4 separate regions of the Homo sapiens genome follow, and regions 2, 3 and 4 are each linked to region 1. The links come from fine-mapping of genetic effects on gene expression. A gene starts in region 1. Each other region holds a variant in brackets. All regions are shown on one strand. Distances are between the middles of the regions. Region 1 holds the start of PVR (PVR cell adhesion molecule). Region 2 has its middle 24 kb from the start of CEACAM20. Region 3 overlaps IGSF23 (immunoglobulin superfamily member 23). Region 4 has its middle 9.4 kb from the start of IGSF23.

Region 1 (5,854 bases):
GGGTGGACAGAGTCTTACTCTGTCACCGAGGCTGGAGGGCCGTGGCGCAATCATGGCTCATGGCAGCCTCAAACTCCTGGGCTTGAGGGATCCTCCAGCCTCAGCCTCCCAAGTAGCTGGGACTATGGGCATGTGCCACCACACCTGGCTAATTTTTTAATTTTTTGTAGAAATACAGGGGGTGGGGGCATATCTGAAAATTTTAAACCTTCCCTGACTGCCGTGAGCATTTCTGGGTAGAAGCCACTCCACGACCTTACTTTGCTGGCATGAGTGCTGGACAGCAATTTGGCAACATCCTCTAGACCACAAATGTGCATGGCCTTTGGCCCAGCAAATCAGCTTCTGGGAATAAATATGACAGATACTGTTACATACATGGGAAATGCCATGGACATGATGACCCAGGGAAGCACAGTTTGCAAGTACAAAAGGGCTGGAAACACCCAAAAAGCCCATCCCCTGAAGACAGTTTCAAAAATGACGGTGCATTCATGTAATGGAATAGTACACATTTGTGAATGAATGAATGAGGTAGCTCAATATATCTGCCTATGGGAAAATCACCAAGATATGTTGCTAAGTGAAAAACAGAAAGATACAGAATAATGCTACCATTTTATTTTTTAATGGGAGAGGGAAGAATAAGGAAATGGATTCATATTTGCTTAATTACACAAGCTTCCTGATGATCCTTTTGGATCCAGAAGTTTGAAAACCACAGCATCAAGAGGATGCCCATTGGGCATGGTGGCTCACGCCTGTAATCCCAGCACTTTGGGAGGCTGAGGAGGGTGGATCGCCTAAGTTCAGGAGTTCGAGACCAGCCTGGCCAACATGGTGAAACCCCATCTCTACTAAAAACACAAAAAAATTAGCTGGGTATGGTGGTGCAGGCCTGTAATTCCAGCTACTTGGGAGGCTGAGGCGCAAGAATCACTTAAGCCTGGGAGGCGGAGGCTGCCGTGAGCCGAGATCACGCCATTGCACTCCAGCTTGGGAGACAGAGCAAGACTGTCTCAAAACAAACAAACACACACAAAAAATAAGATGCCCATTGGAGATCTCCATTCACTATTTTATCAGATGATATTTCAGCACTTGAGTGAAGAAAATGTCTACAACTGGTCCAAACACTCAAGGAATTTAGACTCTTGACAGAGAAACACACAGAAGCAAGCAGATATGCCCCGAACCAAACTTGCTTTTTCTTCTAAGCCTGCTTCTTCGGAGCAGCCTCTGACCCTCCAGGGCCCTGAGAGGAGTCCCTGGAGCCACAGGAGCTTGGGAGCCCAGAGAAGTGGGGGAATCCCAGATGGTGACAGCATCATCCAGAGGAGGAACATAACGATGGCCACAGATTCCCAATTTGGAAATAACTCAGCAAAACAACACTGACAGAAAATTCAGAGATTTCCAAGAGACTAGCCTCCCTGTTTCCATTTAGAAATTCACCTACATACATCCAGGGTGAGAGACCCCAAGCATCAGATGTGTCATACACAAGCATCAGATCCAAGTTAGAGAGGGCACCCGGGGACAGAAACCTCCAAGCCAGCCAAAAGCCAAAGGAAGGATTTTACAGAAAGATACAGGAATGTGGGGCCAGGCACAGTGGCTCATGCCTGCAATCCTAGCACTTTGGGAGGCCGAGGTGGGAGGATCGCTTGCGGCCAGGAATTCAAGGCCAGCCTGAGCAACATAGCGAGATCCTATCTCTACAACAAATTTAAAAACTAGCTGGGTGTGATCACATATGCCTGTGGTCCCAACTACCCAGGAGGCTGAGGCAGGAGTTGAGCCCAGGAGGTGGAGGCTGCAATGAGCAATGATGGCGCCACTTCACTCCAGCCTCAGTGAAATAGTGAGACCCTGTCTAAAAATAATAATAAAAATAAAAAACATATAAAGATGTCAGAGCACAGGGACCAGAGCTGTTAGTCGGCCTCATGGAGACCCTGGCCAGGACAGCCACCTCTGGGGACCAGGAAGTCTCTCAGTTTCTGTCTCTGAGGGTTTGGCTCTCTGAGTCTCTCTGTCACCTCTCATTTCTCTCTCATCTCCCTCTGTCTATGCTGTGTCTCTATCTCTTTCAATCTCTCTGTCTCTGTCTCCCAGCCCTTATCTCTGAGTGTGTCTGTTTCTCTCTCATTTCTCTCTCTCTCTCTCTCTCTTTCTCTCTCTCTCTTTCTCTCTCTCTCTTTCTCTCTCCCCCCTCCCTCCTCCCCTCTCCCTACTGCAGGCTGGTCCATAACCCTTATCTTCCCCAGACCTGATGGAGTTCTGGTATTAATCTGTTTATGGTCTGTTTCCCTCCACTAGAACACGGTCTTCATTAAAGGCAGAGATTTTTGTCTGTCTTATTTTCTGCTGTATACCCAGTGCCTGGGATACTGGCTGGATCAATAAATATATGCTGAATGAAGAATGAATGAATGACCATTCTCATGAACATTATTATTTGATGCCAACTGTAAAGCAACAATAATAATAATTGTCACTGCCACTGCTGCTATTGTTGGTATATCAGCTTTTTATTTAGTACAAACTATATCCCCGAAATTGAGCTAGGCAGTTTCTTGTTTAAGTTTTACAGACCACGCTGTGAGGTAAGTACTGTTAGTATGCCCTTTTTTCTTTCTTTTTGAGACAGAGTCTCACTCTGTCGCCCAGGCTGGAGTGCAGAGGCCCGATCTTGGCTCACTGCAACCTCTGCCTCCCGGGTACAAGTGATTTTCCTGTCTTAGCCTCCCCAGTAGCTGGGATTACAGGCATGTGCCACCATGCCGGCTAATTTTTGTATTTTTAGTAAAGATGGGTTTTTGCCATGTTGGCCAGGCTGGTCTTGAACTCCTGGACCTCTGGTGATCCTCCTGCCTCGGCCTCCCAAAGTGCTGGGATTACAGGCGTCAGCCACTGCGCTTGCTCCCCCAGCCCCCAAACTTTTTTTTTTTTTTTTGAGACAGGTCTGGCTCTGCCACCCAAGCTGTAGTGTAGTGGCGCAATGGTAGCTCACTGAAGCCTCTAACTCCTGGGTTCACACAGTCCTCCTGCCTCAGCCTCCCAAAATGCTGGAATTCAGGCCTGAGCCACCGCGCCCTACTATGCCCATTTTTCAGATAAAGAATCTGAGGGCCCTCGAGGAGAAACCACTTGCCCAACATGAGCCCTGGTCTTGTCTGACCCCAAAGCCCATGGGAAGTTTAGGCTGCGTGGAAGGACAGCCTGGTGGGCTCAGGATCTGTCCCATCACGAGTTGGAACCTCAGCTCTGCCACTCGGCAACCGCGAGCCGTTAGTAAGTTGCTGAATCTCTCCGTGTGCCTCCGTTTCCTCACCTGGAATGTGGGCGACCTCACACAGGAAGCCGCCTCTTCTAGTGGGCACCGACGGAGCGAGCGCGCGTCTGCAGCGGGACTGAGCGCCGGGAGAGACCTGCGCAGGCGCAGGCGCGCGGGGAGGGCCAGCCTGGGTGGCCCACCCCGCGCCTGGCGGGACTGGCCGCCAACTCCCCTCCGCTCCAGTCACTTGTCTGGAGCTTGAAGAAGTGGGTATTCCCCTTCCCACCCCAGGCACTGGAGGAGCGGCCCCCCGGGGATTCCAGGACCTGAGCTCCGGGAGCTGGACTCGCAGCGACCGCGGCAGAGCGAGCGGGCGCCGGGAAGCGAGGAGACGCCCGCGGGAGGCCCAGCTGCTCGGAGCAACTGGCATGGCCCGAGCCATGGCCGCCGCGTGGCCGCTGCTGCTGGTGGCGCTACTGGTGCTGTCCTGGCCACCCCCAGGAACCGGTGAGTGACCCCCGCGCAGTCCGGTGGCCCCTGTCTGGCTCCCAGCTCCGCATCCAGGCCGGGTACTCGCCCCCTTGGGTTCCCGAAGATGACGGCCCCGCCCGGCGCCACCCACCCCCCATCTCTGCCCCGGGGTTGGAAGGAACACGGTGCGAGGGTGCGAGGGCAGGACCCTCCTCTTGGCCACCCGGAGAGCGGTCGGAGTTGGGTACAGAAATTCCTCGAAATTGGCAGCAACACGGGTCGGGCACAAGACCCTCCTCTGGGCCCCTCGGAAAGGGGATGGAGTTGGGTGAGGAAATTTCCCAAAAAGGCAAGTGAATCCCGGAAAATCAGCAGATGGTGACGCATGCCGGATTACCTTACCCAGGTTCCTGCTCAGCATACCCAGGCCATAACCCAGCAGCGTGCTGGCAGGCTGGGTCTGGACGGAGGGGATGGTTGATGTTGGGGAGGAGGACAGTGGGTGACACTTGACACCATTACCCCTCTGACCCCCAATGTCTGACTCCAGGGGCCTGGCCATTCATTCATTCTTTCATTCTTTTTTTTTTTTTTTTGAGACAGTCTCACTCCATCACCCAGGCTGGAGTGCAGTGTCCTGCTCTCGGCTCACTGCAGCCTCCTCCTCCCGAGTTCAAGCGATTCTCCTGCTTCAGCCTCCCGAGTAGCTCGGATTACAGACATGTGCCACTATGCCTGGCTAATATTTTTGTATTTTTAGTAGATACAGGATTTCACCATGTTGGCCAGGCTGGTCTCAAACTCCTGATAAATATATATATTATATATTATTATTATATATTACATATTATAGTAATATATAATAAAAATATATAATATATATTATAGTAATATATAATATATAATAAAATATATAATATATATTATAGTAATATATAATATATAATAAAATATATAATATATATTATAGTAATATATAATATATTATAATATATTATATATATTATTATAATATATAATATGTATATTATATATTATATATATTATTATAATATATAATATGTATATTATATATTATATATATTATTATAATATATAATATGTATTATGTATTATATAATTGATAATATATAATAATATATTTCTTAATAAATATATATTAAATATATTATATATTTATAACATATATTATTTATATAATAAATAATATATATTTTATTATACATTTAAAGAGTAAATAGATAACATATTTTATTATTTATTTATATGTTTTGTGTATATATATATATATATATATATATATATAGTGCGTGTGTGCGTGTATGTGTGTGTGTGTATGAGAGAGACAAGGTCTTGCTTTGTTGCCCAGGCTGGAGTGCAGTGGTACAATCCCGGCTCATTGCAAACTCGACTTCCCAGGCTCAAGCGATCCTCTCACTGTGGCTTCTGGAGTAGCTGGGATTATAGGTGCTCACCTGGCTAATTTTTTTTGTATTTTTGGTAGAGACAGGGTTTCGCTATGCTGCCCAGGCTGGTTGCAGCCAAGCACAGTGGCTCATGCCTGTAATCCCAACACTTTGGGAGGCTGTGGTGGGAGGATCACTTGAGCTTAGGAATTCAAAACCAGCCTGGGCAATATGGCAAGACCCCATCTCTACAAAAATAATTAACTAAATAAAAATTTAAAAATAAAAAAGAATGCATAGGACCATGTTTATTAGTGTCAATAAGCGCTGTCACATTTTGAGGACCTACTATGTGCTAGGGCCCTTAGCAGAAAGATTTTTATATAGGACCTGGGGGATTAGAGGTCAGTCTCTGACCGCCCAAGTTCAAATCCCACCTCTGCCACTAAACCTCTGTATGACTTGGAGGACACTATACTCTGTGTCAGTTTCCCTGTCTGTAAAATGATGTTAACAGTAGTGCTTGCCTCAGGGGGGCTATTTGAGGATTAAATGCCAAGATATATGTGAAGCACCCAGAATAGCCCCTGATCTGTGTCAGCACCCTGTGAGTGTCCACTGTTCTAAGTCTCATTTTACAAACTAGGAAAAAGAATCAGAGAGGTTAAGTAACCGGCCTGAAGCTCCACAGCAGAAA
Region 2 (5,937 bases), 90 kb before region 1:
AGATACTCGCACACGCATGTTTATAGCAGCACAATTCACAATTGCAAAATCGTGGCACCAACCCAAATACCCATCAATCAACAAGTGGATAAAGAAACTGTGATATATATATATATGTTCATATATACGTTCATATATATATGTTCATATATACGTTCATATATACGTTCATATATACGTTCATATATATACGTTCATATATGCGTTCATATATGCGTTCATATATATACGTTCATATATGCGTTCATATATATACGTTCATATATGCGTTCATATATATACGTTCATATATACGTTCATATATATACGTTCATATATGCGTTTATATATACGTTCATATATGCGTTCATATATATGCGTTCATATATATGCGTTCATATATACGCGTTCATATATACGTTCATATATACGCGTTCATATATACGCGTTCATATATACGCGTTCATATATACGCGTTCATATATACGTTCATATATACGCGTTCATATATACGTTCATATATATACGTTCATATATACGTTCATATATATACGTTCATATATATACGTTCATATATATACGTTCATATATATACGTTCATATATACGTTCATATATACACGTTCATATATACGTTCATATATACGTTCATATATACGTTCATATATACGTTCATATATACATTCATATATATGTTCATATATACGTTCATATATATGTTCATATATATATATATATATATATATATATATATGAATGATGGAATACTACTCGGTCATAAAAAGGAATGAATTAACAACATTTGCAATGACCTGGATGAGACTGGAGACTATTATTCTAAGTGAAGTAACTCAGGAATGGAAAACCAAACATCATATGTTCTCACTGATATGTGGGAGCTAAGCTATGAGGACACAAAAGCGTAAGAATGATACAATGGACTTTGGGGACTTGGGGTGAAGAGTGGGAGGGGAGTGAGGGATGAAAGACTACAAATAGGGTGGAGTGTATACCGCTCAGGTGATGGGTGCACCAAAATCTCACAAATCACCCCCAAAGAACTTACTCATGTAACCAAACCGACCTGTACCCCAATAATCTATGGAAAAATAAATAAAATAAAATAAAGCAATAGAGAAAAAGCCTCAAAAATATGAACAGAACATCATTGTTCTATGGGAATAATATCAAGCAGTCTATCACAGGTGCAGCTAAAGAATGAATAAATAAATAAATAAATAAATAAATAAATAAATAAATAAAAATAGATGACTCGGAAAGGAGGAGAGAATATGGCAGACTGGCTGCGGATCTCAAGACCGGAGAAAGCACATGGTGGTGAGTTTTCTGGACTTTCTTTGCGCCTCACAGATCCCAGACTGGGAGCTGGAGAGCCTGGCAATCTAGAAATGCCAATGAGTGTAGATCCAAAAGAGGCTCAAGCAAAGCCTGCTCTAGCCAAAGGACAAGGAGCAGTAGCCTGACAAGATTTGCTAAAGACAGCAAATCTTTACAAGATAATCACTTTGCTGCTGTGATATCCCACAGAAAAGCCTGGACATTTACCCTTGCCAGCTGTACAGAGACACCCATCCCCTCCACCAGGCTGAATAAGCAGCTGGGACTGTCATCCTTGCCCAGCAGTAATGAGCACCGACCCTGCAGTGTCCATTGAGGCCACTAGGGAGCGGTAACGAGGCGTCTCTGCCCCTTCTGGGCAAGATGGTATCAGAGGATGTCTCAGTGGAAAGCCTGAACTCTGCTAACTGCCCAGAGTAACAGTTGCCCCGCCCCACCTGGAATGTCAACAGAGGCCAAATGGGGAACCTGGACCTCCATCCCCACTGGCTATAACAAGATGGTGCCCTTTTTGCCCCACCAGCAAGATGTCAGAGGAGACCTGCTATAACAGAAGATTTAAATGAGATCCAGCGTCTCATAATTTCCAAAATGTCCAGGGTGTTGTTGAAAATCACTTGTCATACACCTACATGTAATCCCAATACTTTGGGAGGCCGAGGTGGGAGAATTGCTTGAGCTCAGAAGTTCGAGACCAGCGTGGGCAACATAGTGAGACCCCATCTCTACAAAAAAAAAAAAAAAATTGACTGAATGAGAAAGACATTCCTGAAATTAAATGAGGAAAGACAATTAATAGAGATGACATGGATTGTTGTTGATGTTTTCTAACTTGGTCTTGAGTTTTCTAGGGGATTTAGTTGTAGATGTTTAAAGTGTAATTTTCACTGGTTACTTCTTTATCTTGGTGGTCGGCCTAATGCCTACATGTCTGACCTGTGACCAGGTGTCCCTCTCACAGTACACTTATTTTTTGTGTGTTTGTTTGTTTTTGAGACAGAGTCTCACTCTGTCACCCAGGTCGGAGCGCAGTGGTATGGTCTTGGCTCACTGCAACCTCCACCTCCCAGGTTCAAGCAATTCTCATGCCTCAGCCTCCTGAGTAGGTGGGATTACAGACATATGCCACTACACCCAACTAATTTTTTTTTTTTTTTAAGTACAGACGGGGTTTCACCATGTTGGCCAGGCTGATCTTGAACTCCTAGCCTCATGGGATCCTCCCACCCCAACCTCCCATAGTGCTGGGATCACAGGCATGAGCCATCACACCTGGCCACAGTACACTTGTTTATAATGGCAGACATTCTTAAGGCTTTTGTCTGACCTGTGTCCAGTTTATTTCTACAAAGAGAGCCATGCTTTAGGACAGCCCTGACCAGGAAAGACGTTAGGTTTGGATGTGTCAGTCAGGTGAGACACAGAGGAGGCAGCACAACAAAACACATGAAATAACAGGGGCAGTTTATTACTCACAGATTCCGGAGAAGACAGAGCAGCACATCTCACAGAGCCAACAGGAAGAAGAGAGTTGTCGGGACACGCACACTCAACCAGCGGGTGGGGAGCAAGAAAGAGAAAGTGAGAGACCTGTGGGCTGATGCTTTTATTGGAGTCTAAGGAAACTGCTCAGGCAGTTTTCCACAGAGAATTCTAACTGGGTTTAGAGCCAGCAGGCACAAGTTGCATGGAGTCACACTGACTGGGAGGTGATCACTGTGGCATATCTGCACAGCCTATGCAGGGTCTGGGGGTCAGGGGGACAGTCAGGTGAGTTATATCTAGCTGTTGCATAAGGAGGTGGTTAACAGGAAGTGGTAGTGTAAGGCAG[G/T]TATCTGGATCTGCCACATTAAGGATCTGGGGGGAGGCGGAGACCTGGAAACTGTGTCAAGGGTGACTAAGCTTTTCTTATGGTATGAGAAAGTCCAACTTATATTCAAAATAGATACTGAGCCAGGCACAGTGGCTCACATCTGTAATCCCAACACTTTGGGAGGCTGAGGCAAGAGGATTGCTTGAGCTCAGGAGTTTGAGACCAGCCTGGGCAACACAGTGAGACCTCCGTCTCTACAAATAAAATTTCAAAAAATTAGCTGGGTGTGGTGGCATACGCCTATAGTCCCAGCTACTTGGGGGACTGAGATGAGAGGTTCACTTGAGCCCAGGAGCTCGAGGCTGCAGTGAGCCGTGATTGCACCACTGCACTCCAGCCTGGGTGACAGAGTGCGACCCTGTCTCAAAACAATAACATTTCAAAAATTGATACTGAGTTTCTATAAAATTGTAAGAATTCACTACACTGATGTTAGAATTGTCTTAAAAGAATCTTAGAGCAGCCAACATAAAAATGCTTCAATGAACAATTACAAACACTTGAAATAAGTGAAAAACCAGAAAGTCTCAGCAAAGAAATAGAAGATATGAAAAAGAACAAGACGGAAATTTTAGAATGGAAAAGCACAATAACAGAAATTTTTTAAAAACTTAATGTTTGAGCCCAGCTGCAGAATGGAGATGACAGAGATAAAAATCAGTGCAGATAAAAGTTACCAAATCTGAACAACAGAAAGAAAATAGACTGATAAGAAGTGAAGAACAGAACTTTGGGACCTGTGGGACTTTAACAAAAGAGCCAACATTCATGTCATTGGAGACCCAGAAGGAAAGGAGGAAGTGGGTATAATGGCTGGTTTCCCAAATCTGGTAAAAGACATACATCTATGGAATCAAGAAACTGAGTAAACCCCAATGCCAGCGTGGTAATCAGGATTCTAAATATAGTCCTTCCAGATTTCTGTTCCTGATTGTTCAATCAAATGCTAATCTAGGTATTGCTTTGAAGGGATTTTGTAATTAAAGCTCAAAGTCAGCTGATCTTAAAATACAGATCATCTGGGTGGGCCTGACCTGATCAGGTGACTCTTTTAAAAGCAGATCAGATGAGAAAGTCAGAGAATCAAAACACAAGGAGGATTCAATGCATCCTTGCTGTCTTTGAAGATGCAGGGGTCAATGTGTGAGCAGGGTAGAGTGGCCTGCAAGAGCTTAGAGCACCCGCAGATGACAGCCAGCAAGGAAACAGACCTCAGTCCTACAACTGTAAGAACCTGGATTCTGGCCAGGCACAGTGGCTCATTCCTGTAATCCCAGCACTTTGGGAGGCCGAGGCAGATGGATCACGAGGTCAGTAGATCGAGACCATCCTGGCTAACATGGTGAAACCCCGTCTCTACTAAAAATACAAAAAATTAGCCAGGCATGCTGGTGGGTGCCGGAGCTTGCAGTGAGCCGAGATCGCCCCACTGCACTCCAGCCTGGGCGACAGAGCGAGACTCCATCTCAAAAAAAAAAAAAAAAAAAAAAAGAACCAGGATTCTGCCACCATCTGAATGAGCTTGGATATGGGTTCTTTCCCAAAGCCTACAGGTAAACCCCAGCCAACTCACATCACACCTTGATTTTGACCTGGTGAGAGAACCCAGTTGAGGACACTTGGACATCGAGGTACAGAAACTGAAATAGTAAATGTTATTCACTCTCTTAGTTCACCCAGAATCAGACTCTGCACTAGAATGTAAGTGCAATTAGTTTATTATTTATTTATTTACTTTTTTGGAGATGGAGTCTCGCACTGTCGCCTGCCACCACGCCAGGCTAATTTTTTGTATTTTTAGTAGAGACAGGGTTTCACCATGTTAGCCAGGATGGTCTCGATCTACTCACCTCGTGATCCACCTGCCTCAGCCTCCCAAAGTGCTGGGATTACAGGCGTGAGCCACCACACCTTAGTGCAATTAGTTTATTTTGGAGAAAGCATTGGCAGAGGTGTGGGAAAGTAAGTAAGGGAAAAGAAGGAAGCCATATAGAAAAATTAGCTCTATAGAAAACTGGAGCTCACCTCTGAAAACTGGTACAAAACACACCTCTGAGGGCCGGGCGCAGTGGCTCACGCCTGTAATCTCAGCACTTTAGGAGGCTGAGGCAGGCAGATCACCTGAGGTCGGGAGTTTGAGACCAGCCTGACCAACATGGAGAAACCCCCTCTCTACTAAAAATACAAAATTAGCCCGGCGTGCTGTCACATGCCTGTAATCCCAGCTACTCAGGAGGCTGAGGTGGGAGAATCACTTGAACCTGGGAGGCGGAGGTTGCGGTGAGCCAAGATCGTGCCATTGCATTCCAACTTGGGCAACAAGAACGAAACTCCATCTCAAAACAAAACAACAACAACAAAAAATAAAACCACCTCTGAGTTGTTCCCCCTAAGTTCAGGGGAATATATCTACCAATTCCTTCTTGGTGTTAGTTAATGGTCACTCCCAGGATGTTAATTTCTCTGACATTTTCAGCCTGCCCTCAGTTGGGGCTTGCATCCTCTTGTACTCAGAGAAATCAGAGAGGCACAGACACTCATGGAAGGGGTTGCGGAAGTACTCACCACTCTCTTTCAGTCATTTCGAGAATTTCTCTTCTTTCATCATTCAGTCGTCCTAAAAGTCCTGTGTGTCAATAATAAATTACACCCACTGAAAGGAAGACGTATATTTACATTTCATGGCCTTTCATTTTCTATTAGTGTCCCCTTCATTCCACTCCATCT
Region 3 (5,937 bases), 25 kb before region 1:
CCCAGCTCAGGCAGGTGTCACACTGGAAGGAGGAAAGGGACGTGGTGGGCCTCTTCCCTATTTTGTCAGAGCTGTTGTCTGAGGCCTCTCTCAGGGCGGAGGGCAGAGGGGAGGAAGGAAAGAAAAGGAGATTGGAAAGTTTCTCCTAGGCTGCTGTAGTTTTGTGATGGAAACACGGCATGCTGTGTGTTGCTGGATCTTCCTGGGGGCGGGAGGGTGGGGTACTTTGGAAATTGGCTGTGCCACTGGATAAAACAGCAACCAGTTTTTAGAAAGTGGTTTACAACATGTTTGCAAAGTGAGCTGGGGGAGCTTACAAAACATTGTCCAAAGGAAAACAAAGCCACAGTGCAACGAACTTCAACTCTGTAAATACAAAATGTTCTCTTGATAACAGCAGGTACCTCGAGAGTGTGACCAGGACAAGCGTAGGGGTGGAGGTCAAAGGGATATTTGGCTTTATATGGGTCTACTTTTTTTTCCTAAGGAGAAGCTCTTGAGTGATTAAAAATTAATTTTAAAAATTATGAAAAACCTTCAAAGAAAATATACTCCCCAAAGTGGTTATCTGAGTATTAGGCTTAAGGATTTGTTTTACTGCTTTTTACTTTACTTTCCAAATTATTCTATAATGAGGAGCAGACGTTGTTTTTTGTGATGCCTTGTAAGAATTGCTGAACATAATTCTACTTTTTGTTTAAAAGAAATAGAAACAGCCAGGCGTGGTGGCTCACACCTGTAATCCCAGCACTTTGGGAGGCCCAGGCAGGCGGATCACAAGGTCAGGAGATTGAGACCATCCTGGCCGACATGGTGAAACCCTGTCTCTACTAAAATACAAAAAAATTAGCTGGGCGTGGTGGCGCACGCCTGTAGTCCCAACTACTCGGGAGGCTGAGGCAGGGGAATCACTTGAACCCGGGAGGTGGAGCTTGCAGTGAGCCGAGATTGCACCACTGCACTCCAGCCTGGCGACAGAGCGAGACTCCATCTCAAAAAAAAAAAAAAAAGAAGAAGGAAATAGAAACAATAACAAGCATAAAGCTTGAAAAAAAAAAACAGTAAAAGTTTCCAAAACATAGTGTTTATTTCTAGGAGTCTAAGTTTTCTGCTATAAAAATGGAAATAAATAAATATATATATATGAGTATATATGAGTAATACCATATATGTAGAGAGAGAGAGGGAGAGAGAGAAAAAGAGAGAGAGAGAGAGGGAGAAAGGTCTTGCTCTGTCACCCAGGCTGCAGTGCAGTGGCAGGATCATAGCTCACTGAAACCTCAAACTCCTGGACTTGAGGAATCTTCCCACCTCAGCCTCCTGAGTAGCTGGGACTACAGGCGCGTGCCACCATGCCCAGCGAATTTTTTATTTTTGTAGAGACAGGGCCTCACTCAGTTGCCCAGGCTAGTCTTGAACTTCTGGCTCAAGTAATCTTCCAGCCTTGCCCCACCCCTCCCCCCGCCCCCGCAAAGTGCAGGATTACAGGTATGAGCCAACACACCGGCCTACTCTTATATTAAAAAAAAAAAAAAAATGCCTATCAGGAGTGAAAGGATTAGGTGTGGTGCCCAAGAGACGCAGGGATTCTTTTTGGGGTGACGAAAATGTCCTTAAATTGCTTGAGGTGATGGTTGCCCAATTCTGTGAGTATACTAAAAGCTCTTGAATTGTACGCTTTAAATGAGTAAATTATTGGCTAAGAAAGTAGATTTTATGTGTTCTCACCACAAAAAAAATAAGTACATGAGGTAATGCATATGTTAATTAGCTCAATTTAGCCATTCCACAATGTATATGTATTTTAAAACATCACATTGTACACCATAAATATACACAATTTGTATTTGTTAATTTTAAAAAGAAAAAATAGTGGCAAGGTTATAACTTAATCAGTGTCCAGAACAAACATTATGTCACCCTTTAAAAATGTACCATTCACATTGATTTATAACCCTTTATTATTTCTAAATAAGGTGGTGAGAAAATGTTGGGTGAGGGGTTGGGTAGGAGTAAATGGAGCAAAGCAGATCCCAGAACCAGAAGACATTAGTAGTATATGGAGAGAGACACTCAACAGGAGCTGTGGGCTGGAACAGAAGGACCCAGCCAACTGTAGGACTAATCCCTTCAAGCTTACTCCCCCGCTGCCCTCTCCTCTTCTGCCAACGTGCCCACTGACAGAAACCAACCAGCAGCAAAAGGTAAGGGGACCCCAACAACACAGCTCAGAGAAGTCAGCCTTTCAGGCAGCAGAGTGGAGCAGAGAAGGGTAGAAAACCAATTTTTGCAACATCCAGTATAATATACGTGCGTGCTTCAAGGGGTCAAGGAGAGGAATCAATGATTCCTCCTCCTTCCCTGCTCTTCCAAGGCGCCCTGCTCACATCCTGCACCTGCTCTGCCTTCTCAGAGCTGCCCTTCTCGGCACAGCTGAACACCTTGACCGAAGGAGCCAGTGTCCATCTTCCTGTCCCCGGAAGGCTTGAAGGCATTCTCACCACGTCTTGGTTCTGAGGGTATGACGCCCAGCCAGCAGCCATGATATTCTCCCCGAAGGGCCTCCCAGGACCTGCTCACACTGGCCGGGAGATGCTGGGAACCCAAGGCAGCCTGGTCATTAGAAAATGACGGCTCAGGACTCGGGCAGCTACACCGTCGTGCTGGAAACCAGCAGGGGACACAGGAGTGTGACGGAGCAGATCCATGTCAAGAGTGAGTGGGGCCCCGCAGTGGGAGGGGCTGACTTCTCAGAAAGCAGACCCACTGGACCTCAGAAGAGCCCACCAGGACACTTTGCATGCTGGTTATCCATTGCTCCCCAATAAACCACCCCAAAACTTAAAACATCAATCACTTATCTAGCTGGACAGTTGTTGTGTTCAGCTGTTGGGGTGTCTGGGTGTTGGCTGGTCCAGAATGACCTCCTTCATGTGCCTGGCCATGGACCAGCTGGTGGCTGGAGTGATGGGGATGAGTGGGCCACATAGCCTCCCAACCTCCAGCAGGCTATCCCAGGCTTGTTCACTCAGCAATGGAAGAGGAACAAGAGGTAAAGCTGCAAAACTCCTTCAGGCCCAGGCTCAAAACTGACCACCATCACTTCTGCCACCTTCTATTGGTCAAAGCAAGT[C/T]ACATGGCCAGCCCAGCTTCAACAGGAAGGAAAAAGGCCCCACCTCTTAAGGAGAGGAGTTGCAATGTGTTGTGGCTATTTTTTGTCGTTGTGTTAGATTGTTCTTCCATTGCTATAAAGACATACCTGAGACTGGGTTATTTATTTAAAAAAAAAAAAAAAAGAAGAAGACGTTTGATTGGCTCATGGTTCCACAGGTGGAAGTGTAATGCCAGCATCTGCTCAGCTTCTAAGGAGCCCTCAGGGAGCTTTTAATCATAGCGAAGGCAAAGGAGGAGCAGGTGTCTCCCGTGAGAACAGGAGCAAGAGAAAGAGAGAGTCAGAGAGGAAGTGCCACATTTTACAACAATCAGATCTCATGAGAACTCACTACCATGAGGACAGCGTCAAGCCATAAGGGATCCGCCCCTGTGGCCCAAACACCTTTACTGAGGCCCCACCACCAACACTGGGGATCGCATTTCAACATGAGATTTTGGCAGGGATAAATATCCACATTATAACAGCCAAGACTTGCAACAGACATTCATGAGATACGCATTCATCATCACTTGGGAAAGGTAGAGAAGGTCTGGTAGCAGCCTTCAACCTCATCTATATTTTTATCACCTGGACTCAAACTTTCATATCTGAATTAGGAAAACAAAGCCCTGAGAGTAACCAGACCCATCCTCCTTTTAGAAGATAGTCCAGAGACTGTCCTAGTCGGCTCGGGCAAAATACTCTAGGCTTAATCAACAGAAACTTATTCCCTCACAGTTCTGAAGGATGGATTGCAAGATGAAGCTGCTGGCAGGTTTCATCTCCTCTGAGGCCTCTCTTTTTTGACTTGCGGAAGGGTGCCTTCTCATTCTGTCCTTGCATGGTCTTTCTTCTGTGTGTGCACATCCCTGGTGTCTCTCTGTGTGTCCAAACTTCCTCTTCTTATAAGGGCACCAGTCAGGTTGGATTAGGACCCACCCTAACAACTTCATTCTAACTTAATCACCTCGTTAAAGACCTTATCTCCAAATACGGTCACATTCTGAGGTACTGGGGGTTAGGGTTTCAACATATATGTTTGGTGGGGGACTCAATTCAGTTCATAACAGAGATCAACTTAGTTAGGGTTCAGATTCTGATGCTCTAACAAAGACTCAAAAAGTTCCAGTGTCGGCCAGGCGCAGTGGCTCACGCCTGTAATCCCAGCATTTTGGGAGGCCAAGGCGGGCAGATCACGAGTTCAGGAGTTCAAGACCAGCCTGACCAACATGGTGAAACCCCGTATTTATTAAAAATACAAAAATTAGCCGGGCATAGTGGCAGGCGCCTGTAATCCTAGCTATTCAGGAGACTGAGGAAGTAGAATCGCTTGAACCTGGGAGTCGGAGGTTGCAATGAGCCAAGACCATGCCACTGCACACTTAGAACCCCACTTCTGCACAGAGGGGTTTTTACTCCCCTCCCAGAGAATTTATGGACCGCTGAGGTTCATCCATCTGTATTTCTGTGATTTGATGACTAATTTTGTGTGTGTGTGTGTGTGTGTGTGTGTGTGTGTGTGTGTGTGTGAGATGGAGCCTCGCTCTGTCGCCCAGGCTGGAGTGAAGTGGTGCGATCTCGGCTCACTACAACCTCCACCACCCGGGTTCAAGCGAGTCTCCTGCCTCAGCCTCCTGAGTAGCTGGGATCACAGGCGCCCGCCACCACGCCCGGCTAATTTTTATATTTTTAGTAGAGACAGGGTTTCACCATGTTGGCCAGGCTGGTCTCAAATTCCTGACCTCAGGTTATCCACCTGCCTTGGCCTCCCAAAGTGCTGGGATTACAGGCGTGAGCCACCGGGCCCGGCCTGAAGGCTAATTCTTCTAAAGGCCTGGCTCCACACCTTCGCCTATGCCATTCTCAGTCCGAAGGGCCCTTTCTAAAGAGAGAGGTTGCAGGAACTCACGCTCGGTGGTGCAGGCTGTGTGGCCAGAACTCCCTGGATCAAATCCCTCTGGCATCTGTTATGCCCCTGAGTCCCTGCAAAAAAGTAACTTTCTGTTTTGCACTTCAGTTTCCCCATCTGTGCAATGAGGTCATAGTGGAACCTACCTCATAGGGTGACTGTGAGGAGTAAGTGAGTTAATCAGTGCTAAATGCCTACAACAATGCCTGACAAAGAGCAAGTAAATGTTAGCCCTGGCCAGGTGCTATGGCTCACACCTGTAATCCCAGCAGTTTGGGAGGCCGAGGTGAGAGGATTGCTTGAGCTCAGAAGTTCGAGACCAGCCTGGGCAACATGATGAGACGCCCATCTCAACAAAGAATTTAAAAATTAGCCAAGCCTGGTGATGTGCGCCCATAGTCCCAGCTACTCAGGAGGCTGAGATGGAAGGATCCCTTGAGCCCGGGAGGTTGAGGCTGCAGTGAGCTGTAACCTTGCCACTGCACTCCAGCCTGGGGGACACAGCAAGACCCTGTCTCAAAAAAAAAAAAAAAAAAATAGCCCTGTTTGTTTCAAAGGACTTGACTTCTTTGAGCCTTCCTTTTCTCATCAAAATGGGAATAAGGCCGGCACGGTGGCTTACACCTTTAACCCCAGCACTTTGGGAGGACAAGGTGGGTGGATCACTTGAGCCCGGGAGTTCAAGACCAGCCTGGGCAACATGGTGAGACCCCATCTCTACAAAAAATAGCTGGATGTAGTGGCGCACGCCTGTAATCCCAACTACTCTGGAGGAGACTTTGAGCCCGGGAGGTGGAGGTTGCAGTAAGCTATGATTGCACCACTACACTCCAGCCTGAGTGACAGAACAAGACCCTGTCTCAAAAAAAAAAAG
Region 4 (5,937 bases), 39 kb before region 1:
TATGGATGGTGGCTGAAAACAGCAAGATGAGAAAATTGCTTTCATTTGGAATACTATTGCACTTGTGTTTCCTAAGATATTTCAGGGGTCAGTCTGGTGTTAGGACATTCATGTGCTTCTGATTTGATTGAAGATTGAATTAACTTAAATTCTTTTTTTTGTTGTTTTTTACTTTTTTTATTTTTTTAAAGACAGGGTCTCACTCTGTCTCCTGGGAATGGCTGGGACTGGAGTGCAGTGACAGGAACCGTAACTCACGGCAGCCCGGAACTCATGGGCTAAAGCAATCCTCCCACCTCAGCCTCCTGGTAGCTGGAACTACAGGCACTAGCTAACTGCCTAGCTAACTTTTTAAAAAAATAGATGGAGTCTCACTATGTTGCCCAGGCTGGTCAGGAACTCCTGGCCTCAAGCAATCCTCCCACCTTGGCCTCCCAAAGCACTAGGATTACAGGTGTGAGCCCCTGCACCTGGCCTAATTCAATTTCTCAGAAGGCGAAGGGGACAGATCCATCCCTGGGAAAGACATCTGACTGTTCTATGATGGAAAAGAGAAAGGACTCTGACTCCATTAGTACCCCACGATGATCTGAAGCTGCGAAAGTGACCCATCAGAGGAGCTGCTGTCTCCACCATCACAGGCAGGTGGGGAATCAAAAAGCTGCTGCTGTTGCTGCTAACTGGAATTGTCGGCTCCAGACCTCTGCAGGGCTTGCTGAATTCACACAGGCAAGAGCCTCTCAAAACACACTGGTGATGATACAGAAGATAGAAAGAAATTATTTAGGCAGATAGTAAGAGCAACAGAGTCCTTGGTGGAATTCCTCTTTAACAAAAAGCAGCCCCAAAATCATTTCTTTTCTAAACAAAGAGCAGCCTGAAAAATTGAGCTGCAGACATAGATAAGCAAGCTGGAAGCTTGCATGGGTGAATGCTGGCAGCTGTGCCAATAGAAAAGGGCTACCTGGAAGCCAGGTATGTTCAACCTGGAGGCTCCATCTTCCCTTTTGTTTGTTACCACATGTGCGGTTAAAAAAAAAAAAGCAGGCAACATGGCACTGGCCAGGTAGACAACCCATCTGCATAATGAAGCTGGGTGGGGCAGCCAGCTTCTTTGCGCGCTATGCAAACGGCACACTTAGTCCTAACCAGTTCATCATGTGCTATGCAAATGGCACACCTGGTCCGACCAATCTTTCGTGTCCTATGTAAATCAGACACAGCCTCCTCAATCTCATCTATAAAACCTTCTGCATTTCACTGCCAAAGTGGCAACCTATTTTCTCCAGAACCCCTCTCTGTGCAGAGAGCTCTTCTCTTTCTTTCACCTATTAAACTTCCCCTCTTAATCTTACTCTGGTGGTCCATGTCCTAGTTTTCTGTGGCTGTGAGACAGCGAATCTCGGGTATTTACCCCAGGCAATGACACTGTTTCAGTGGTATCTCAAAAAAAATCTAAACGGGTGTGGTGGCTTACGTTTGTAATCCCAACACTTTTGGAGGCCAAGGCAGGCAGATCACTTGAGGTCAGGAGTTCGAGACCAGCCTGGCCAAAATGGCAAAACCCCATCTCTACTAAAAATATAAAAAATTAGCCAGACATTGGTGGCGGGTGCCTGTAATCCCAGCTACTCAAGAGGCTGAGGCAGGAGAATTGCTTGAACCTGGGAGGCAGAGGTTGCAGTGAGCCGAGATCGCAATCACGCCACTGCACTCCAGCCTGGGCAACAGAGCAAGACTCTGTCTCAAAAAAAAAAAAAAAAAAAAAAAGAACCTTAGTCTCCACAACAACTTATCTTATCCCAGACATTCCTTTCTATTGATTCCAGGTCTTGAGATGATAACTTAACTCTTTCAACCAATTGCCAATCAGAAAATCTTTGAATCCATTTATGACCTGTAACCCCTCTGCCCCACTTCAAGTTGTCCCACCTTTCTGGGCTGAATCAGCGTATACCTTACGTGTACTGACTGATGTCTGCCTGTAACTTCTGTCCCCCTAAAATGTACAAAATCAAGCTGTAATCCAACCATCTGGGGCACACATTCTCAGGATTTCCTGAAGCTGTGTCATAGGTCATGGTCCTCACATTTGGCTAAGAATAAATATTTTCAAATATTTTAGAGTTTAGCTTTTTTCATCAACAAATGACATCCTTAGTCCTGGCCAGAAGTCAGAACCAACTGAGAGAGAGAGACAGATCAGCATGTCATCAGTATTTCCTAAGCAATACGCAATATCAGGGAATGTGGCCAAGCTGTGTAGCCCAATGGGTTTGTCATCACCTCCTTTGCTTCCTGTCGCCTCCAATCTAAATATCAACATAGGATGTAAGTTTGGATGCTGGTGATAGATTAAAAATAGCAATGGCTTAAATTCCATAGAAATGAATTTCTCTCTCCTGTAACAGTCCTAGCTGGTATGCAGTTCTGCTTTGTGAGGGTATCATGAGTCTGTGCTCTTCCATCTTGTTCTCTGCTATCCCTATGATGCTGAGCTTGTAAACCAAAAATACAACTCAAAGCCGCCACCTACCACACACCTAAACCATCTGAACGGACTCCCTCCTTGGCCAGGCCACTCCAAATTTAACCTGAAAGACTGGTTCAGCCCATGACGGGTGGGATGGGGGTTGGGGTTGGATGTGCTGAAGCAGGGTTGTTCGTCTTGGGTAATACCCGA[G/A]ATTCGTTGCCTCAAGCCAATGAAATCAAGGATGTGGACCCACAAGGAGTGAGGTTAGGAGCAGAGGTTTAATAGGTGAAATAAAGAGAAAATTTTGCTGTCTTCTGCAGAGAGAGGGGGGTCCCAAGAGGGTTTTCCGGTCCATGGTGAAGTGCAGGAGGTTTTATAGATGAGTTTGAAAAGGCAGTGTCTGATTTACATAGGGCACAAAATATTGGTCGAACCAGGTGTGCCATTTGTATAGCATGCAAAGAGCTGGTTAGGGTTAGGTGTGCCTTTTGCATAGCTCCTGAAAAAGCTGGCCACCCCACCCCAATCTTTTATTATGCAGATGGGCTGTCTACCTGGCCTGTGCCATGTTGCCTGCTTTTTTTTTACTGTACATGTGGTGACAAAGAAAAGGGAGGATAAAGCCTCCATGTTGAACATACCTGGCCTCCAGGTAGCCCTATTCTATTGGCACAGCTGCCGGCATTCACCCAAGCGAGCCACTACTTTGGTTATCTATGTTTACAGCTCAGTTTTTCAGGATGCTCTTTGTATAAAAGACGTGACTTTGGGGCGGCTTTTTGTTAAAAGGGAAATTCCACCACAGACTCTGTTGCCCTTACTATCTGCCTAAACAATTTCTTTCTAGCTCCTGTATGAGTGCTTCATTATGGCCGCATCCCTTTTGGAGTTCAGGAAAAACAGACCAGCATTTAACATCGACACAGACCTGAAGTCTGATAAGAAACATTTACAATCCATTCTCTCTGAAGGCTGCTACCTGGAGGCTTCATTTGCATCATAAAACTCTGGTCTCCACAACCTCTTATCATAACTCAGACAGTCCTTTCTATTGATAATAACTCTTTCAACCAATTGCCAATAGAAAAATTTTTCAATCGACCTATATGGAAGCCCCTCCCCCACCACTTTCAGTTATCCCACCTTTCTGGACTGAACCGATGTATATCTTAAATGTTTTGATTGATGTCTCGTGTCTCCCTAAAATGTATAAAACAAAGCTACACCCCAAACATCTTGGCCATATGTTTTCAGGGTCACCTGAGGGCTGTGTCATGGGCTATGGTCACTCATATTTAGCTCAGAATAAATCTCTTAAAATATTTTACAGGGCCAGGCACAGTGGCTCATGCCTGTAATCCCAGCACTTTGGGAGGCCAAGGTGGGCAGATCACCTGAGGTCAGGAGTTCGAGACCAGACTGGCCAACATGGTGAAACCCTGTCTCTACTAAAAATACAAAAAACTTAGCTGGGCGTTGTGGTACACCCCTGCAATCCCAGCTACTCGGGAAGCTGAGGCACGAGAATTGCTTGAACCTAGGAGGCGGAGGTTGCAGTGATCCAAGATTGTGCCACTACAGTCCAGCCTGGGTGACAGAGCAAGACTCTGTCTCAAAAAATGTATATATTTTAGAGGGTTTTCATCGACACGCTTGTTCCCAGGGCCCCTAGCGTGTCGCACACTTGTTCCCAGATCCCCCAGCATGTCCCCACTTCCACCTGAAGGTAGGGAAAACAAGAAAGGGAGAACTTTATTGAAGGGCATGACCCAGAAATGGCACACAACTCTTCTGTTCACATACCATTCACCAGAACATGCTCACGTGACTACAGCTGCTGCAAGGAAGGCTGGGAAATTTAGTCTTTATTCCAGGCAACCATTGGCCAAACTTAAACTCCTCTAACTATGAAAGGACTCGTAGATTGGGGAGGCACCACTAGCTTCTCTGCCATATATATTTACAACCCCAATAGTTGCTTCCTCTGCTAAGGCAGGTACATTATCACATAGTAGGAGGAAGCAGACCAAACTGTAGTCGTTCTGGAGACAGGTAAATCCAAAAATGGGAGGAGAGGATCTGAGCCAAGTAAGCTCATTTTCTTCTCCCAGACTCATCAAACTCATAGCAGGGGACAAAAGCCAAAAGTTTTATTCCAACTTCAGATTTCTAACTGGGGCAGTATTAATATTTTAGCTGAGACAAGTTTCTGTTGTATGGGACAGTCCCACCTATTATTGCAGGAGGTTTTGCCCAATAAATGTCACTACTGTTTCATCCTCAGGCATTGTGACAACCAAACTGTAGGAAGATGGGCTGGGCACAGTGGCTCATGCCTATAATCCCGGTGCTTTGGGAGGCTGAGGTGGGAGGATTACTTGAGGCCCTGAGTTCAAAACCAGCCTGAGCAACAAAATGAGATCCCATCTCCACACACACACACAAAATCAAATTGTAGGAAGAGATTTCCAAAACCTCTAGGAGGGGCAGGGGATGCCTTCGACTGGGAAATATAGGGGCATTTGTAACCACACCAGACCAATCTGATTCAACTTTTATGTAACAAAGCTGTAAGTTGTTTTTCAGTTGCCACGGACTCCCAGGTTGAAGGTCCATAACCTAAGCATGCCCAGGTGAACCAAACGTGCAACCTTGACTGAAACCCAAGTACTCAGACTGGGAAGTGAGGATTGAATTAAGAAGTGGACACTGCATGGCGGGATCCAGGATCCAATCACATTGAGCCCTGGCATCACCCCAGGGCACGGTCCAATCAAATCATGCCTCCCCACATCACCTCATTACAAGATCCAATCAGATCATGCCTCCCTGCAAATAATTACAAATGTAGTACGAGAAACACTGAGGTTTGGGAAATGTTCACAATAAGGCAAGATCCAATCAGATCATGCCTCATTACCCTTGGGACTATAAAACCTGTCCCAACCCCTAGCTCAGGGAGATATATTTGAGCCTGACTCCTATCTCCTTGCTTGACAGCCTTGCAATACACTTTTCTGTCTACAAAATCCCAAGGTTGGCTGGGCGCGGTGGCTCACGCCTGTAATCCCAGCACTTTGGGAGGCTGAGGTGAGCAGATCACGAGGTCAGGAGATCGACACCATCCTGGCTAACACGGTGAAACACCATCTCTACTACAAATACAAAAAATTACCTGGGCGTGGTGGCGGGCACCTGTAGTCCCAGCTACTTGGGAGGCTGAGGCAGGAGAATGGCGTGAACCCGGGAGGCGGAGCTTTCAGTGAGCCGAGATCGCGCCATTGCACTCCAGCCTGGGCGACAGAGTGAGACTCCATCAAAAAAAAAAAAAAAAAAAAAAAAATTCCCAAGGCTTTGGTGTGTGGCTTTCCATTGTGTGCAGGCAAACAGACCCAGTTCAGGTCGGTGACATGTCCTTCTCATAGAGATGTGAGAAATGTAGGATTCCCTCACACAGGGCAGGA

What was found. PIP is the estimated chance that this variant, and not a neighbour inherited with it, causes the effect.
Region 2: its variant is fine-mapped to the expression of PVR in whole blood (TOPMed, PIP above 0.99). The same link has a PIP of 0.9 or more in blood mononuclear cells.
Region 3: its variant is fine-mapped to the expression of PVR in whole blood (TOPMed, PIP above 0.99).
Region 4: its variant is fine-mapped to the expression of PVR in unexposed skin (GTEx, PIP 0.92).

What each region holds. Positions count from the first base shown.
Region 1 is chr19:44,640,389-44,646,242 of GRCh38, forward strand. PVR (PVR cell adhesion molecule) reads left to right here and starts at 3,522. Exons shown (of 8, transcript NM_006505.5): 1 at 3,522-3,787. The coding sequence starts at 3,709. RefSeq lists a silencer at 3,474-3,553.
Region 2 is chr19:44,550,827-44,556,763 of GRCh38, forward strand. It overlaps the pseudogene CEACAM22P. Among named protein-coding and RNA genes, the nearest start is that of CEACAM20, 24 kb to the left of the region's middle. The variant G/T (reference allele first, on the strand shown) is at 3,169.
Region 3 is chr19:44,615,702-44,621,638 of GRCh38, forward strand. All of the region lies in intron 1 of IGSF23 (immunoglobulin superfamily member 23), which reads left to right. Among named protein-coding and RNA genes, the nearest start is that of IGSF23, 5.1 kb to the left of the region's middle. The variant C/T (reference allele first, on the strand shown) is at 3,134.
Region 4 is chr19:44,601,155-44,607,091 of GRCh38, forward strand. No RefSeq gene overlaps it. Among named protein-coding and RNA genes, the nearest start is that of IGSF23, 9.4 kb to the right of the region's middle. The variant G/A (reference allele first, on the strand shown) is at 2,684.